Linked DNA regions of Homo sapiens. The protein of the gene in region 1 interacts with the protein of each later gene in a pairwise test. Each region holds a gene or a part of one and is shown on either strand. Other genes may lie near its edges.

Region 1 (3,754 bases):
GATTTACAGGATTGTTGGAAAGATAAAATACAGTGTGTAAAGTGCACAGCACTACTTTATGCATAACATCCTCAATAAATATATTAGTTCCCTTTCCCTTGTGATGCTACCATACCCAAATAGCCATTGTGATGTTTCCTTTTCATGCACTTCAGCTTTTCTTTTTCTAAGTAGTTCTCTGTTTCTCAAACTCCAGGTTCCAATGACTTCTGTAATAAAATGAAAGTGATTAGAAAAAGTGATGAACTGTGGTGTCTATCAGCAAAAGTCCTGTAGCCAAGTGGCAGAGTCTCTGTTCTAGGTTTTTCTCCTAGCTTTTTGAGGACAAGGACTGCATCTCATTTATCCTTGTATCTCCAGAGAAAGCCTGGAAGCAGACATTCAGCAAATGTTTTTGAATGAAAAGGTCAGAGACCTACTCCTACATAGTATTTGTACATAAGTGTGCTACCAACCTATTAATTTCTTCAAAGTAATTTTATATATTGTACAAATAATGAAAAAAGTAGCCATATTTTGCTGTCTTTAACATGATAACTTGTTTTCATTTTATTCCTCACTTCTATCCAGTCTTTATATTACACAAAGTTGTAAGAATAGCATACCACAATTTTAATCTTTTTATTAAGCTAGCGTTATATTAGAACTATTTTCCATGACGTAGTCTTCATAATGATAATTTTAATGACAATGTGATACATAGTCTAGTTGATGTACTCTCATTTACCCAATCATTCCTCTTGGATTGAGCATTTAGATTGTTGCTAGTTATCTTTGCCTTGTATATCAAATTATAATAAGCATATTCATTGCATATAGCTTTTCTTTGGTATTTTTTCCTTAGAACGGTGTTTTTTCAAGTTCTTTGGAAAATTAAGGGTTTGATCAAAAAAGTTTCTGCTGCTGTCTAAGGTTGAGAAAAATTGATGAGTCTTTGATGCAGAGCTTCCTAGAGCCTGTGAAGTGATACAAATCCACACTGGGACCTCTAAAGAATAGAGCATGCCCCTTGAACCATGGTGCCTCTTGTTCTTGGGATAAGGGTTCTTAATAGGAAAAATTATATCTTTATTTTTACCAACCTCTAATTAAAATTGACAGTTCCTTCAATTATGAATGTAGATAACAAACCACAGTAGTTTTGGCAGTATATGACTTTTTTTTCAACTTTTATTTTAAGTTCAGGGGTTCATGTGCAGGATATGCAGGTTTGTTACATAGGTATACATGTGCCATGGTGGTTTGCTGTGCAGATCATCCCATCACCTAGGTATTAAGCCCAGCATCTATTATCTATTCTTCCTGATGCTCTCCCTCCCCCTCAGCATATGACTTGGTCCCTATAAAGAAATCACATATTTTTTTATCACATTATAGTTGTTGCAGATACCTTAAAATATCACCTACTGGCTATGACTTATTTGACTTGATACTATTATTAGACCCACCACTGGATATTGTAATCTATAAATAATCATATATATTACTATATAATAATTTTTTATTTTGATATTTGTATCTTAATGTAATTATTCCCTTTCTAGTCTTATATATTTAATTTTATGCCTTTAAAAATTTTATTCAAAGAAGGAGTCTCTGGGTTCATCAGAATGCCAAAGAGATCCATGTAGCAAAAAAAATTTAAAACAATGTCTTAAGGTATCTCAAGGCCTAAGTTTCCACAAAACATTTTGAGAAATGTTGCTTTAGGATAGATCCAAGGACTGAGATTAGTGAGTCAAAAGAATAAGCAGTATTATAGCTCTCACCACTTATTGCCAGATCTCTTTCCAAACGTTAGACCAAATTTGTGCTGCCATAGAAATGTATGAATCCACTTGTTTTACCACAGCCATCGAATGAAATTATTGGATGAACTAGTCTCATTAGCTTTCATTTATTTCCTTTTTTTTTTTTTTTGGCCAGATCCATTGAAAAGAGAAAATTATCATACCCCGAATTCTTCTCAACAGCCACCAGCTCTTAAGGTATTTTTCATTACCTGGAGAATGGTTCTCTTCTTGATGAGGGTCAGGTGTCTGATGGTGCTTCAAATGAGATTGGTCCTTTCCCAAATCCATCTTGCTGCAATACCTTCCTGCTATTTTGGTCTGACTTCCACAAGCAGCCTAGATGCTTTTTTAAAATATCAAAAACATCTAACACTTAAAAAAAAAAACCACACACACAAGTTTGCCTGTCACTTGACTTCCCGCCTAAAAGTTTTATCTGGTTGGACCACAACTGCAGGCTAATTCTACTATCTTTATCACACTGCACAGGTGTGAGTAGGGGAAATGGCTGGTGCTAGCAACCCCTAGCATAGGTTGCTATTTATACAGGGAAACTCTCTGACCACAGCCTGGCATGGCACAGCCTCTAGTCAGCACTCTTTTGGTTCTATCTGCCAGGAAGTGTCTGGATCCGATGTTCCTTTTTACAGATGGAGGTAGCCTAGTGTAGAAAGAACACAATCTAGGCCCCAACCAGCTCAGTGGCCCAGGGCAAGTCACCTCCCTTTTCTATGACTCTCTGCATTTGCAAAATGGGTAAATAATTCCTGTCTTGCCTACTTCATACGGTTCTTGTGAAAGTGAAAATAATAGATATAAAAGTTTCTAGAAAGTGTGATATATATTAATCTTACATGGTTTCCTGTATGTAGCTTTTTTCACCTTAATCTGTTGCAAAATAATGTACAGTTTTGCTGTGTATGCTGTTAGACTTAGTTAAGAAATAGACATAAAGAACCAAATTAGAATTTCACAGCAATTTTGTACCCTTTTTGGCTCACCAAATCATTCGCAAGTGACTCAAGATAACTAGTGAAATCCATTGTTACTCATATAGGGGAAGGTGAAAAATTACTTCTTAATGAAAATATCACCACATTATATCCCAGAAATTAAGTTGAAATAATCAAAGGAACCATCCTATCTCCAAGCAGTAACCCCATTTGTGAAGACAAGGAGCCACAGACTACTATGGTTCAACTAAAGAAGAAACCCTGAGCACCTCCTGATACAGGAAGCCAGTCTGGGAGATGCAGGATTAATATATGTGTTCTGGATTCAGATTGAATTGAAGTGAGTTTGAATTCCAGTGTTGACATTCCCTAATTCAGTGACCTGAGGCAGGTTAGATAGCCTTGGAGTCAATTTACCTATCTATAACATGGGGACAATATTGGTATCTACCTCAGAAAGTTACTGGGATGATTAAGTCCAGTAATCCATATGAGGCATTTTATGTGTGCCTAGCATATTGAACTTGGTCAGTAAATGTTAGCTACCAATAAAAATACAGTAACCAGATTTTGGTAAAGCAAGTCATAGTTTAAATGCACTAAAGAGAGAATCTGAAGAGGATTCTTTATAAAGAAAGACCTTTGTAATGTGAATAGATACCCACTACTTCCATGGAGTCTTAAGGCATTAGAACTGGAAGAGCCCAAAATCATCTAGTCCCTGCCTATTTTGTATACAAAGAAACTGAGAACCGAGGAGGAGAGTTACCTATACTTAGTATTTTATTACTTATTGCCAGCAGCATCTCTTACAGATTAGGAGATGGGTCATCATTTTGTGTGCTTGATCTTTCCTGGGTATAAAAATGTGTGTATCATGTAAATATATTAGAGAAACAAGCTGTCAAACACACTAAAGGGTATCGAGAATGATATAACAAACACCCAAGTATCTGCCACTAAAATTTAACTTGGTTTTTAATTACTAAACCCTAATATTTAGCTTTA
Region 2 (3,654 bases), on another chromosome or scaffold:
GAAAGGAGTCAGTGCCTTCCTCCATCACCTCCTGCTCTGGGCCTCCTGTCCTGACACAGCTGTGTCCACCACTGCCCCAGCTCTCACTGGGCTCCAGAAACACCCTGTCCTCCTCTAGCCCTTCAGCCCTAGAGGTGGCTTTCTGTCGTGTCTTGGGTGCCTCAACAATGTCCTCTGATGGTTTCCTTAACCCTGCCCCACCTAACTAGTCACTTGAAAAGTGCAGGGTGCTCTGGGGTGGGTGGAAATGTGTGTTTATCTGTGTGTGTGTGTGTGTGTGTGTGTGTGTGTGTGTGTGTGTGTGTTGCAACAGACTGAATGTTTCTGTCCCCATAAAATTCCTATGTTGAAATTGTAACCCCTGATGTGATGCTTTTAGGAGGCGGGGCTTTTGGGAGGTAATTAGATCATGAATTACCTCCCTCCTGAATGGTATTAGTGCCCTTATCAAAAAGGCTGGAGAGAAACCACGCCCTCACCCCTTCAACCACGTGAAGACCCAGGGAGTCTGCAACCTGGAAGAGGAAGAGGGTGTTTCACCCGGAGCCCAGGCATGCTGCACCCCAGTCTCAGACTTCCAGCCTCCAGAACCCTGAGAAATAAATGTTCATTGTTTACGCCATCTAGTGCATGGCCATTTGTTACAGCAGCCCAAACTGACTAAGACTTATCTATACACACACACTCGCCCCTTATAGAGAGGGAAAGGCTACTATAATGATTATTTACCAAGCATGAAGACAGTTCAACCCAAAGCAGGATGTGTGTGAATTCACACCACCAAGAGCCTGAGATGTAATCACTACTACTTTGCTTTTGCTCAAACTGCTTTAAAAAGCAGGGACCCCAGGCCCACACAAATCTACAAGTCCTTTTAGCAAATCAGTCAAAGGGACCTTCCCCTGGCTGGACCCAGCCCTGGGTGCATGGCTTGACGCAGGGCACACAGACCAGATTTCAGCCCCTTTCACTCTCTCACGCAAGCTTACCATGTGCAGGACACCCCACCACTGCCAACCGCACCCACATAGGAGCCCCTTCCTCCTCCTCCAACTAACCCACCCTCTGGAATCCAAGCCCTCCTCACCCGAGAGCCTCCCACCTGCCACTCCTGCCAGGTCACTGCAGGCCCCATGAGGTCAGGCAGCCTGTCCTACGGCCGCATCCTCCCCACCCACTCCCACATTAGCAAAACAAGTACAAAGGGAAGGAAGGACACAAATGGACCCTCCTTCAACATGGATACCAGGAAAAACTGTCATTCCTTACAGAATGGCTTCTCACCAATGTCTTGCCAAAACTTCTAGCCCTGTACAAGTAACACAGCCTGGCCAGTAACTACCTCTAAGTATTCCCAAATGTGTTCACCTCCCGCTCTTTTCACCAAAGCCTCCAAATATTGGTGAACTTACAGAGTGAAAGTGCTGATAAATTATAGCGAGGAAGCAGCAATGTGCATGTCAACAAGCATTTCAACAGAAAGATCGGTATGAATTACAAGGCGGGTGAAAAAATGAAACTCACTTTCATAACTTTCTTAACTCAAAGCAAAGGAAAAACAAGCAATGATTATTTGTTTTTAAGAGGAAAGTATGATGCCAGTTTGTCTCATCAGCCACCACGCAAAGCTGTGAAAGATGGCGTGAGGCAGTGCCTGGTGCCCGCACACAGGGGCTGCTCCATGTATTTGATTTCACTTAATGAGAGATGTGCACTGCCCATGGAGTTAAGAAGAAACTGAGCAGATCTGCTCTGTCCAAAATCTCCTCCAGGAAGCTCCCTCTGACATCAAAACTAGCTGTTATGCAAGAAATCACTCAGAATCAGAATCACAGGAGACAGAACATTGTGCTAGGAAACTCTGGCTGCCACCATTTTACAAAGTTCAACCTACTTGTCCTGAACTCTATGGCCTGGGGCTGTCCTTCTGTGCCATTCGCTGCTTGGGAATAAACGGTGGCATTGTATCGGGTGCCAGGCTCTAACCCGACAAGCAGGACTTCCGTGTCTCGGGACTGCTGGCCGGAGGATGGGTCCACAGGTCCCACGAGGGACTCATCATGCACAGGGGCGGTGGGGCTCCCTGCCCGGCTTCTCTCTGTATTGCTGGCATCTGTTTCAAGCACAGGAGACAAAAAGACATCAACCACAAGAGGGACACATCCCCCATTTTCCTTCGGAGCCCCAACCCCATCAGATGGCCATCAGACAGTGGCCACAGTTGGTGCTCCATCAATATCTGCTCCCTTCCTCCTCCAGAGAGAGAGGCAGCCCCATAAAAAGGCCTGATAGCTCCATCTCCATTTGTACTGTTATTCCAGTAGCACCACAGATATCTGGTGCTTCTCTTTCAAACTCTGCTTATTTCAGGTCATTCTCCCTTCTTTGGGTTGTTATCTTCTCCTGTCCCAGCATGGATTTCCAGGGACAGCTCTGTGAAGCAGACTTTGCTAATCAGACCCCACTCAAGACACGTTTCCCTGGACCAGACCCTGGTTGGTGGGGCAGCTGGCTGGTGGGGCAGCTGCAGGGTGTGAAACAGGAGCAGCTGGGCTCCTTAAGTGTGCAGAGGGAGCTGCTCTGAGAATGAAGCTGATGAACAGAAAGAAGCAAGAGGGAGGGATGAGAATTGCCTCATCTCTTTCTCTAAGGCCTCCCGCTAGCAGGAAAATCCACATGAGCCAATAAATTGTTCCTTCTGTCTGAGCTATCCAAAGTCTGGTTTCTGTCACTCGCAAGCAAGGATCCTGACACCCACTCTGTAGCTCTGTTTTCTTAAGTATAAAATGCAGATTAAGTGCCTGTCCTCCTCATGGAGTTATCCTGGGGATCCTCTGCAAATGCTATGAAACCTGCAAATGACAACGCCAACATCAACCAGCAGACGTGATAAGTTCCTCTGAAGGCCCAACTTGGGTTGACACAGCTGTTAGATAGAAAGCTAAAGGGGCCTCTAACTTTCCTGGGTGCCAGACTCTAAAAAGTTTCAATTCCTATTGCTGTTCTCAGCCCCAATGTGTTCCCCTGTAAAATCAGAACACGTTTCCTTCCTTCCTCATGCAGGTGGGGGATCAAACTAAAATGTGGAGGAAAAGCCCTTTATAAATTCTAAATCTCCATACACATGGAAGAGCAATTTATTTTTTAGAACATTTAGTTACTGAAAGTAAGAACCAGTAAGGGAGACGGAAGGTACCCTTTGTAACTCACCCAAGCCACCTTCTGTGCCCAAGGGGTCTCCCTTTGTCTTATTTGATTGTAGAAGATACGGGTTGATGTTGTATTGAACCCCTGGCTTCAGGCCCGAGATATTGACCTGAAGTCTTGAGTCTTGAGTCAACTCCTCATGGCTTCCAATGCTTTCAAGAAGAACCCGGCAGGAGGCAGTGCCATTGCCATTGCTCCAGGAGAGAGCAGCCTTCCTCACACCCGTGAGGGCAACACGGAGATCAGAAACTGGGATCGGCTCTATTTTAAAAATACAACATGCATTAATGGAACAAGATATATGCAGTCACCTTCATTAAGAATGACTGGGGTTCAGTGCTGGGAGCGGGTTTTAAAAGAAAAAAAGAAAGAATGACTGAGGTCACTGATGTCCCAATGTGACTCACTAAAAATACTTCCTTTCTATCAGAGCCCAATGCATTTCCA

Evidence for each region. Proteins that work in one complex are often made in the same cells at the same time.
Region 2: the proteins of HEMGN (region 1) and PTPRJ interact in a two-hybrid assay, tested with the Homo sapiens proteins (one large-scale study listed by BioGRID and IntAct).

Annotation. Positions count from the first base shown.
Region 1 is NC_000009.12:97,936,056-97,939,809, forward strand, and holds the start of HEMGN (hemogen), read right to left. Parts: upstream 2,118-3,754; 5' UTR 2,082-2,117; coding exon 2,003-2,081; intron 210-2,002; coding exon 116-209; intron 1-115. UniProt on the Homo sapiens protein: Regulates the proliferation and differentiation of hematopoietic cells. Overexpression block the TPA-induced megakaryocytic differentiation in the K562 cell model. May also prevent cell apoptosis through the activation of the nuclear factor-kappa B (NF-kB).
Region 2 is NC_000011.10:48,123,427-48,127,080, reverse strand, and holds part of PTPRJ (receptor-type tyrosine-protein phosphatase eta isoform 1 precursor), read right to left. Parts: intron 3,469-3,654; coding exon 3,211-3,468; intron 2,114-3,210; coding exon 1,895-2,113; intron 1-1,894. UniProt on the Homo sapiens protein: Tyrosine phosphatase which dephosphorylates or contributes to the dephosphorylation of CTNND1, FLT3, PDGFRB, MET, KDR, LYN, SRC, MAPK1, MAPK3, EGFR, TJP1, OCLN, PIK3R1 and PIK3R2. Plays a role in cell adhesion, migration, proliferation and differentiation.